2 separate regions of the Homo sapiens genome follow, and region 1 is linked to region 2. Evidence: fine-mapped expression QTL. A gene starts in region 2. The other region holds a variant in brackets. All regions are shown on one strand. Distances are between the middles of the regions.

What was found.
Region 1: its variant is fine-mapped to the expression of SYT9-AS1 in whole blood (INTERVAL, PIP 0.91).

Annotation. Positions count from the first base shown.
Region 1 is chr11:7,486,846-7,492,229 of GRCh38, reverse strand. It overlaps OLFML1 (olfactomedin like 1), which reads right to left. Exons shown (of 3, transcript NM_198474.4): 2 at 3,815-4,103. Among named protein-coding and RNA genes, the nearest start is that of OLFML1, 4.0 kb to the right of the region's middle. The variant T/C (reference allele first, on the strand shown) is at 3,131.
Region 2 is chr11:7,463,411-7,468,794 of GRCh38, reverse strand. It overlaps SYT9-AS1 (SYT9 antisense RNA 1), which reads left to right and starts at 2,960. Exons shown (of 5, transcript NR_103855.1): 1 at 2,960-3,042. SYT9 (synaptotagmin 9) reads right to left here. Exons shown (of 7, transcript NM_175733.4): 7 at 1-2,003. The coding sequence ends at 1,995. RefSeq lists an enhancer at 814-873.

The DNA of each region.
Region 1 (5,384 bases), 23 kb before region 2:
ATCAGAGTCTTCCAGGAAGAAGGTGGGTGCAGGTAATTAGTAGCACCAGCTGAGCCTATCAGACTAAAGCATTGTGATAGGCAGATTTCTTAAACAATCCCCAGGATTTTTACCCCCTGGTGTACATGCCCAGTGTAATTCCCTTCCCTTGAGTGTGGGCAGGACCTGTGAGTGTATGACAGGACAGCACTCTGTGATTGCATTACATTGTAAGACAAAGGTGAAGGAATTTTGCATATACAGATAAGTTTCCAAATCAGTTGATTTTGAAGTTATCAATAGGAAATTATGGGTGGGCTGGCTGAATCACATAAAAGCCCTGAAAAGAGGGACTAGGCGCTTCCTAAAGAGAAGCACTCTCCATCTACTTGAAGGAGCAATAGCTGTGTTGTGCAGTGCCTATGGCAAGGAGAGGCTGTAGGAGCTGAGGGTCCCAGCCCTACAAGTACCAGCAGAGGACCCAGCTAAGCCATGCATGGACTCCTGACCCACAGAAACTCTGAGGTAGTAAATGTGTAGTTTTAAGATGCTAAATCTATGGTAATTTGTTGTATAGCATGAGAACTGATATAGGCATAGTTACTAACAGAAATGGCAAAAAAGCAGGAGTGTGCATAATATATACAATACAAAACAGTGCCTAACGGGAATAAATTGACATTCCAAAGTCTACTCCTAGATAGAGAACCTCTAAAAATAATAAATCGAGGAGACACTAATCACACCGTTGTGATTGTTTCTAGGTTTGTCTTCCCCTAAACTAAGCTCTGCAGGGGCCTCTGCCATTGTTATTTCTTCTGTAAACAATTTCTGTGGCCTTCTCCATGGGAGGACATGACCTAGGCTCTGTGAATGCAGAAAAGAAGATGTCAGTATGTTTGTGGAATGACTGAGGAGTTGAATACATACAGACTTGTGTGGTCGGATATGTGAGATGCTCCCTGGGAGGACTGAATGAATTGCTCCAGGAGCATTATAGGCCAATCTGCCTGGCAGCCCCCTCACCTCTATCCTCACCCTCATAGGTCTTCACAAAGAATTCACAGCATTTTTGAGTCATAAAGGATTGCTAGGAAAAAATATATAAATATATATTAATTATATATAATATATATTTTAATACATATATACACACATACATAAAAATATGTATATGTATATTTAAACTGCATTTGGGTAAGTTATGGGAGAAGGAGCTGGAGATCAACTTGCATCACTTTGTAAAGGGCCTTTCTTATGTAAAAGAAAGCTAGGAGATTTGAATGGATTTTTTTGTTGTTGATAATTGATGGTAAATGACGAAAATACATTCTACACAGAGGAGAATTATGATCTATTTTGTGTTGTGGAAGGTCTGCATGACAGGAGGCAGACTGTGGGAGGCAAGAGAAGTGGTAAGGAAGCTACAGCAGGATGCAGACATGTCCTACTCAGTCCTCCATCCCTGCAGTGCAGCACAGGGCCCATCCAGTAGTGGGAGGCAACAAGTATTGGCTGATTTACAAACCAACACAGCATCAAATGTGAGCTCCAGAGGCAACAGACATGGATGTAGCAATCTCTGATAGGTTCAGAAATAAGTTTTCATATACCACAGAGCTAGGAGAGGGGATATTTCAGAACTACCAGATCTGAGGGGCAGAGGATGGGGGTTGAAAAAGCAAGTCCAGTCTCAGGACCTCCACTGAGCTCTAGCTGGAATGGGAAAGGGTAGTCTCAACACCTGGTGGGCTGAGAGTATCCAGGGACCAGAAACAGCTCAGGGATCCAATTCAGCACCACTATTCAGACTTAGCGTCCTGCCTGAACCCCCAGTGTGAGAGTTCGGACACATTCTAGCTCAGGCCACATTAGCACCCAGTCCTCTCCATCAGCTTTTTAGGAAGCCCCTGTTCATCCTCTTTTGACCCATTTCCTTCCCTCACTCTGTGCTTACCGCCAGCTTCTCCCTCTTTGAGGATGATTCATCTCAGGACAATGTCAGGGCCAAAAAGGATTGCTTACTTGACCCATTGCTTCATATTATAGGCAGGGCACCCTCCTCTCTTTCTTCTGACTCAGGGATAAGATGTTTTTTGGTTCCCCGCCCCCCCCCCCACCAAAGCCTAACTAACCCCTCTGCCTGTGTTGACAATCCCTACATCTACTCATTTATTTGTTTTAATTGTTTAATTACTCACTGAAAACTATTTATTGAATAGACCCCATTCTAGGCACTGGAGACACAGCATTGAACATGAAACTGGGGTTCCAAGCTCTCATAGAGCTGACATTACAGATAGGGAGGTAGGAAATAACCTATGAGCCAATAAATGAACTAAATGGTTTCAAAATTATAAATGGTCTGAAAAAAATTATAGAGTAATAAGTGCTCCCAAACTCCTTTTGAGTTTTCCATCTCAGCATATTTCATACCAACCATTCGATGACCTAAGCCCAAAACCTGGGAAACATCCTGGACTCATCTCTCTCACTCATCATTTAGTTTTAATTAGCAGTCAGAAAGCCATGTGGATTCCAATTCTCAATGGCTCTCAAATCCACCTGTTCTCTGTCCCATGACACTTAATGCCAACACTATTACTTGTTGCCCAAATCATTGCAGCATTCCCTGACTGGTCTCCTCTCTCTAGTCTTAGCCTCTTCCTTCGTATCATGCCCTTGTTTAAAATTGCTCAATGGTTCTCTATAGTTTCTCCAGTGAGCTTCAACTTCCTTCATCTAGCATGCAAGGTCTCTCATTAACTGGGTCCTGCTGAGCTCTTCAACCTAGTTTCCCTACTGTCACCTCTCTAAAAAGCTTTCACTCAGCCATATTTGCGGGTCTACATGTCAAGGTGCTACAGTACCCTCATGCCTTTGGTATATTGTGCCCTGACTTGAAGTACCCTCTACTCATTCGTTTCTAACTTCTTTGTTCAAAACTGAGACCAAGTGTCACCTCATTTAGGAAGACCCTTTTCCTTATAGTGACCATGAAGTTCTTAGAAGGATTACATTGAGAAGGTATGTGAAACTTTTAGCACAATGATGGCACTCAGCTTATATGTCATTTCCCTGATGGAGGTTCTTGAATTGGAACAGACGTAATTAGCATGTAAATAAAGTCTTCCTATTTGCAATGAAAACA[T/C]CTCAGAATACAAACCCTGAAGTGGGAGATTTGTCTCCCTCATTGTTTTAATGAAATAGACTCGGGCACAGAAAATTTTTCTTTGTCATTTGTGTGTTTATTGCCTGATACTGTTTATTATAATTTGAGCTGCTACACATTATTCTTAATGGCTTGGAAGTGATTCTGATGGATCACAAGATTAGACCACATCCCATGCATATCACCATCTCAGACAGCACACACAATAGTGATTCACTGCAGTTCCCATCCCTGAGGGTTGGCTGTTGCCATTTCCAATTTAAGACTGTTTCTTGGTACATTTGCAGATGCTATCTACAGCCTGGGTACTGGATGTAGAATCCACCAAACTGCTACTTTCCCTGAAAAAATCTGGGACCACACATCTCCACCAAACCAAGATTTATCAGGAGGTAGTCTCTTTGGGCTGACTTTTGGCACTATAGCCTTCACCATCTATGGAGGCTTTAGGCACTGTGTGTGAAAGAAAGAATGGCTTTGCGAGAATGGATTTCTCTTTGGACACCTGTTCTCTGTATAGCTTTCTCTCTCAGCAATGCACACAAAAGCACACCTCCAATTCTTACTCTCATTACTCTATGATGCTCCCTGACTGCTCTGAGTCTGTGTGTTTCTGAGCATAATAGTCCCTAGAAGGGCTAGGAAAAGATGCAGTTTTCTTACTTGCATTCAGCAGAGTCCGGATCTTTTTCTCTTCTTCAGCTTCTTGGAGCAACATTTCTGCCAGTGTCTTGTCCTCTGATTCGATGCACTCGTCAGCCTCTCGAAGGTATTGTATGTAGTCAATCTCCCGTTGGGCACGTTCAACTCTCAGTGCCAAGTTACCCACTGCACTCTTGTACTCACTTGTGTAGGTCTGACATCTTCCCAGCATGACAGATATATTTTTTGAGAACTCTTGGAATTCTTGAATGTATGCCCTCGTTGCTTGGGTACATTTTTCCAGCCCTTGCTTCAGTCAGAAAATAAATTTGCAAATTATTGCTTGTTATTTAAATTACCCAAATAATATAAATACCTATCATTTATAGAAAAGGATTAGAAAATTACACATCATCAAATAGGGGAAAAATTGAAATCTCCCATAATTCCTAAATTCAAAGGTAGTATTGATACTTGAGTATATCAGTTTTTAAAAGTTTTCCCAAGCATTTAGTCATACATATGTAAATATATATTTTTAAAATGTGATTTTACTATATGTTTTGTATCATCTTTTTCACTTGCAGATATATTGTGAACATACTTTGATACTAATTAAAGTATACCTATACCATAACTTTAATGAGAGCATTCCATTTAATTGATATCCCATTATTTATTCTGTTAGACTCTTTTTGAGGTACATTTACATAGTTTTTAATTTTTTGTCATTCAAACAATGCTGAGAAAAAAACTTTTTATTTACATCTTCATCAGATTATTAAGGGAAAAAAAAACCTTTGTATTTACATCTTCATCAGATTATTTTAAGGTAGATTTCCAGAATATCCGTCCCTAGCACTTGGCACAGGGCCAAGCACATAATACTATTCAATAAATATTTGCTGAACAAAAGAATAAATGAATGGAAATGGGATTGCTTGGTCAAAGAGAATGTCTACTTAAAGCTCATTTGGCATGGTTTATCAAAATTCTATCCACAAATGTAAAAATGTATGCTCCAAACAACAATACGTAAGGCTGTTTATTTTGAAGGGAGAAAGACAGAAAGAGAGACCCAAAATAATTCCCTAAATCCCTACCCTCTTTTTTCCTACCCCTCCGACACTGGCTTCTCAGGCTGGGAATGCTATCACTGTATTGTTAAGTGTCTGCGCTGGCCAACAGTGACTGCCACCTGCGACTTGGCTTCACCTCAGGTCAGGACTGGGGTGGGAAGATCTATACAGATCATATCCTTGTCTTTTTCAAATCCACATTCATAGCTATAAAAGGATCAGTCTGTACTTCATACCCTTGACAAGTTCTTAAGGTAGTGAAAGACAATTTGCAGGGATTTGGCTGGCTTTACTCCCAAGGCAAGTCGGTGCTAAATGCAGAGGGATCCTGACTGAGCATCATTCTGGCACTTCTAAGGAGGTGAGGCTCAGGAGGGAGCAAGTGAAGAAGCGCAAGAGGCCGCTCGTCTGGGAACACTTCATCCACTGCCTCCAGGCCCCAGCCTGTTGGCTGGACGCCCTTAGGAAATGCATTCGGCCTGCTATGTGGAATTACTTTACCCTGACTATAA
Region 2 (5,384 bases):
AGTATCCCAAGGCTGCTGGCTCTCTGGGCAGGAAGCTTCTGAGGTGGGGAACAGTAGGCACAGCTGCCTCAGGATCTCCAACCCAGGCTTCCATTGCCAAGGACATGTCAGAATTTATTGGGATTGCTGCCTGATATCTATTGGAGCCAGTCTGCTTTCTCTGGGACCATTCTTCTGGGCTCATCTGCCTAGCTTTACAGACAATATTTCTGCTAACTATCCTGGTGGCGCTAGCCCTTCATGTTTTGCTTCTAAACACTGGTATGGTGGAGGATGTCTGAATGAGGAGGGATGAGCAGAGGGGAACCTTGAGCAGAGGAAGCCAAGTTTTCCTTATGTCATCAGACATAGGCAGAACCTTGGATTCTCTTTGAATCCCAGTGGTTGGAAGCCAATCAGAGAAGTGAAGCTTGAATGTAATGACACTGCTTCCTACAAACAAAGGCCTATAGCCTTCTTAGATCTGCCATCAAAGTAGAGCTTCTTGTATAGTACTAGGCAGCTGGGGCAATGAGAACTTTCTGAAGACGTATAACGATCCTTCCTCCGCCCAGTTAGTTCCATGCTGAAATGTTAATTCAAACAGAGATAATGAGCTTTCCAGGAAGGTAAACTACAATCCAACTCTGGATTCTGCTGTAAAGAGATTGTGTGAAAAGAAAAATACTATCTTGGAGTAGTGGTGCAAATGTGTGGATGGGGTGCCTTGCACCTATAATGGGACAGAGAGGACCATTAGGTAACAGCCCCCAGTCCTCCCAGGATATGCTGAGGCCTTTGGTTTCATTTACGTGGAGGCAGAAGCAATGAGGATGAGGCGCATAGCTGGCCATTGGTTGGCAGACTTGGTCAGGAAGGAAGCTGAGTAATGAATGAGATGCCTGGGGAGGGCCCTTGACCTTCACTCTTGTAGGTATTTCCATCCCCAAGTGGTGTGAAAGTGATGTATGTGTCTGAAGTGAGAAGGAAACCTCTATGTGTGGTTGCCCAAGGCTATGACTCTGGGCTGTTGCATATGGAAATACCCCAGAAGGCATTCAGGCCAGAGAAGCCCAAAAGCTGTGCCTTTCTATAGGGGATGGCTGTGTTCTCTCTCCATGATCTCATCTCACCCATTGCTGTACCAGTTTCTGAGGCTGTTCCCTTAGTGGACGAATGTGCCTAGGAAAGGATATTCCACAATGCTCATGCCACTGAGATGTATGCCCTTCTAACTAATTACTTTTCATTCTAATAACACTCCCAGTTGAAAGGAAGGGGCTGCTAGCTACTGAGTGAGTAGTGTTGGGGGTCTCTGATTCCTCAAAATCTGGTTTTAGCAGAAAACAGGGCCATGTTGATACTGGTACTCTCTACCACGTGCATGGGAGGAGGCAGTGAATTTGCTGTGAACTAGCCCTCCTTGCATTAGATTTTTTCCAGGGAACAGCCTGCTTGTCTTGGTATTCTCTTGGGGCTATTCCTTGCAAATCTGGAGCACTTCTTGGGGCACAGTTATTTTCTGGAGACAGTCATTAGCTCAAAGGTAGTCATGTGTGAATTGAGATCTGCTGCCTATTTAGCACCTGGATATATTTTTAAATATTCTGTCCTTCCAGGGCATTCTAGAAAATAATATTATGTTGGAATAACGATTTCCAGGGCAGATGCTATGTCCTCATCACCAAGGGCTTCATATGAAACATTGAGTCCTGGTACTCTTGGTACTGTCACTATATCTATCATTTGTTTTTGTTCATAGTCCGATCTTGGTTCTTGGCATGAGAGACATGCTTCCCTGCAGCACATCACCTTGGGCCACCTGCAGAAGGTGGCTGGACCATTCAGGTTCACCAAACCCAATCTGGAAAGAAGGCCAGTTAGTGCTGTGGTTACAGCTGAGCATTTGGTCACTGAAATCGTCTGGATGTTGCTGGATGGAAAAAGTTACTTAAGATCTTTGTGAGATGGTTGTCCTATTTTGTCCTTGGCACAAGCAGTCCTCTTACCCATGGTCATCGTTTCTGCAGGAAGAAAAAACAAAAAAATAATTTGGCTTTCATTCATACATTTTTTTTCTTTTTTTTTTTTTTTTGAGACAGAGTCTTGCTCTGTCACCCAGGCTGGAGTGCAGTGGCGCGATCTTGGCTCACTGCAACCTCCGCCTCCTGGGTTCAAGCAATTCTCCTGCCTCAGCCTCCCAAGTAGCTGGGATTACAGGTGCCCGCCGCCACACCTGGCTAATTTTTGTATTTTTAGTAGAGACAGGGTGTCACCATGTTGGCCAGGCTGGGCTCGAACTCCTGACCTTGTGATCTGCCTGCCTCGGCCTCCCAAAGTGGTGGGATTACAGGCGTGAGTCACTGTGCCTGGCCCATTCATACATTTTTAATGTGCACCAAACAAGTGCCAGGCATGGTAATAGATGCTGGGGATACTAAGCCCATAAGTAGGACACTCCCCCTGCTTTCAAAGGGCTCACAGATGGAGATATTATGATGTGAGAAGCTGCATAGAATACTGCAGGGGCAATGGGAAGGGAGAAAGTAACTTCAAAGGGATTGAGGAGGTCTATAGAGAGCATTCTGATTGATGAGTCTTGAGCTAAGCCATTTAGGCTGAAGAGGAATCCCTCTGGAAAGAAGAAGGGTCACTTGGGGTAGAGGAAAGAGACTGTGCAAAGGCAGAATGCAATAAAGGGCATGGTGCATTGAAGGAATCATCACAATTTGGTGTGACTGGACTGTAGTGTGAGGAATGAAGTGGTCGGAGGTAAGGCTGGTGATATGATTTAGTTGTGCCCCCACCCAAATCTCAACTTGAGTTGTACCTCCCAGACTTCCCACGTGTTGTGGGAAGGGACCCGGCAGGGGAGGTAATTGAATCATGGGGGCCGGTCTTCCCCGTGCTGTTCTTGTGATAGTGAATAAGTCTCACGAGATCTGATGGGTTTATCAGGGGTTTCTGCTTTTGCTTCTTCCTCATTTTCTCTTGCTGCTGCCATGTAAGAAGTGCCTTTTGCCTCCTGCCATGATTCTGAGGCCTCCCCAGCCATGTGGAACTGTAAGTCCAGTTAAACCTCTTTTTCTTCCCACTCTCGGATATGTCTTTGTCAGCAGCGTGAAAATGGACTAATACAGCTGGGATGGAAAGATGAGGTCTGAGTGGTGCAACATCATTCCTTGTTTCCGAGATGTGAAGGAGGGGCTCTCTTAAGGAAGCCCCAGACTTAGACTAGCAGTATCTCTTGTGTTTCACACTCAGCCCAGCATTCAACTTAATTTAAACTCAGGGCACCTTCCAGCACAGATTAAATGTAGTAATACTGTGGCCATAGAGAGAAAAAACTGAAGTGACTTCTATGGATATAGGAATAACAAAATTTACACGTAAACTATAAAAGAGTAGCAACCATTCTGACAATGAAATTTATGGACTTCATTTCAGAGATCAAAAGTTCACATGTGAGGCTATAACTTACTTAAGGAAAGTATTAAAAGCCAGTGTGTTCACTGCAAAGGGAAACCACGTTTGATTGTGACCCGTGGCTTTGAAGTGTGTGCATGTGTGTGGGCACACACACACATCTCTGGGAAAGGGGTCTTTGTTTCTGTGTCTAGGAAGAAAGACTGAATGATATTTGTCTTAATATTGTGGTTCAAATATCAGTTTGCCAGATCAGCTGCTACCCTGGAGCACCATCCAAATAGCTCTACTTTCGTTTTTTTTGAGATGGAGTCTTGCTCTGTCCCCAGGCTGGAGTGCAGTGGCGCAATCTCGACTCACTGCAAGCTCCACCTCCCGGGTTCATGCCATTCTCCTGCCTCAGCCTCCTGAGTAGCTGGGACTACAGGCGCCCGCCACCACGCCCGGCTAATTTTTTTTTTTTGTATTTTTAGTAGAGACGGGGTTTCACTGTGTTAGCCATGATGGTCTTGATCTCCTGACCTCGTGATCCGCCCGCCTCGGCCTCCCAAAGTACTGGGATTACAGGCGTGAGCCACCGCGCCTGGCCCCGAATAGCTCTACTTTCTAAGCCACCATCTACATCAGGCCCGTGGTTCCCTAGCCGCTCTTTCAACTGTGAAACCCATACCCATATCAGTTTGCCAATTCCTGAGTTCCTTCCCATCAGAGAAAGCAAATTGTTAACAGGCTCAGTGTCACCAATGAATGTGGTCTGGAATTAGTTGTGATGGTATCAGCCCATATTCCTTCATTTTTGGGTACTTATTGTATGCCAGGCACTGGGATATGGACTTTACAAGTTCTTAAAAGACCCCGTGGGGTTCTTTAATGGAGGATGCAGCGTTGTAGAGACACTAATTTGCACAAGGCCACACTGTGACTAAGTGTCAGAGCTGAGATTTAAACCCAAGACTTCCAATTTCAAAGTCCAAGCTTTAGCAATTATGTCAATTCCCTCTGTAGGTCCAGTCTACATTTCTGATGTATTAAAAGTACTTTATCTGCCTTGGCTTTCTAGACTCCCTAAATCTAGCCAGATGAGCTTCCTTTAAGAACCCTAGTCCAAACTAGTAGCATACAGCAGGTGCCACATCCCACTTATGGTTTCCTAGCTGCTTATCCCATTTCTCTGGATTCCCCCAGCTAGTGACATGCATATGTATCTTGTTTGCCCCCACAGTTCTGTGCACAACCTCATTTTTCCCTATTATGACCTAATTTTACCTCTTCATTTAAGCAGTTCCTTCAGAATGCTTTGGGTTTAGCTCTCCCAAAGTACCCAGCCTTAGGGACCACCTCTGTACCTGATTTCTTATGGCCTGTCTAAAGCCTGCTTAGAGGGCTAGGCTGCAACCTTAGCCAATTTTTTTTACCAGTCCCCATACCCAGGGATACCACTAGCATTGGCATTGTTGCCAATGGCCAAGTCATAGCACAGCTCCCACCTGAACTCCATAGCTGGGTTTTGCTCATTTGGTGAATTTCCTTGTGTGTGTAATTAGCCAGAATCAAGGTCAGCCTCTGGAAATACGGCGGTGCAGCCTACTGGTCTCCCCCTTCTTAAGGTGCAGCCCTTCACTTGGGTGAGTTTTCTGGGCTCTGAATCTTTTCCTCTTCTGGACAGCGCCACTAAGGTCCTAGAATGCTTGTGAGCTGGGACCAAGCCCACAAGATGACAGGATTAAGGAGTTTCAATACATCTGGTGTCGTGATAGGGTCATTGCTACCAGCAATATTGCAAGAAAAGCCTCTTGAAAACAAACTTATTCTAGGGAAAGTCAAGCATACAAGTCAGTTCTGAAAAAGTTGTCTCAGGAGAAGACATGAGTAAATTTTGCTGTTGTTGTTCAGCCCCCTTTTGTCTGGCTTCTGTTGGGGGAAGACTAGAAAATCTCAACCAAATCAAACAAAATAAGCAAATTACACCTTTCCAAACT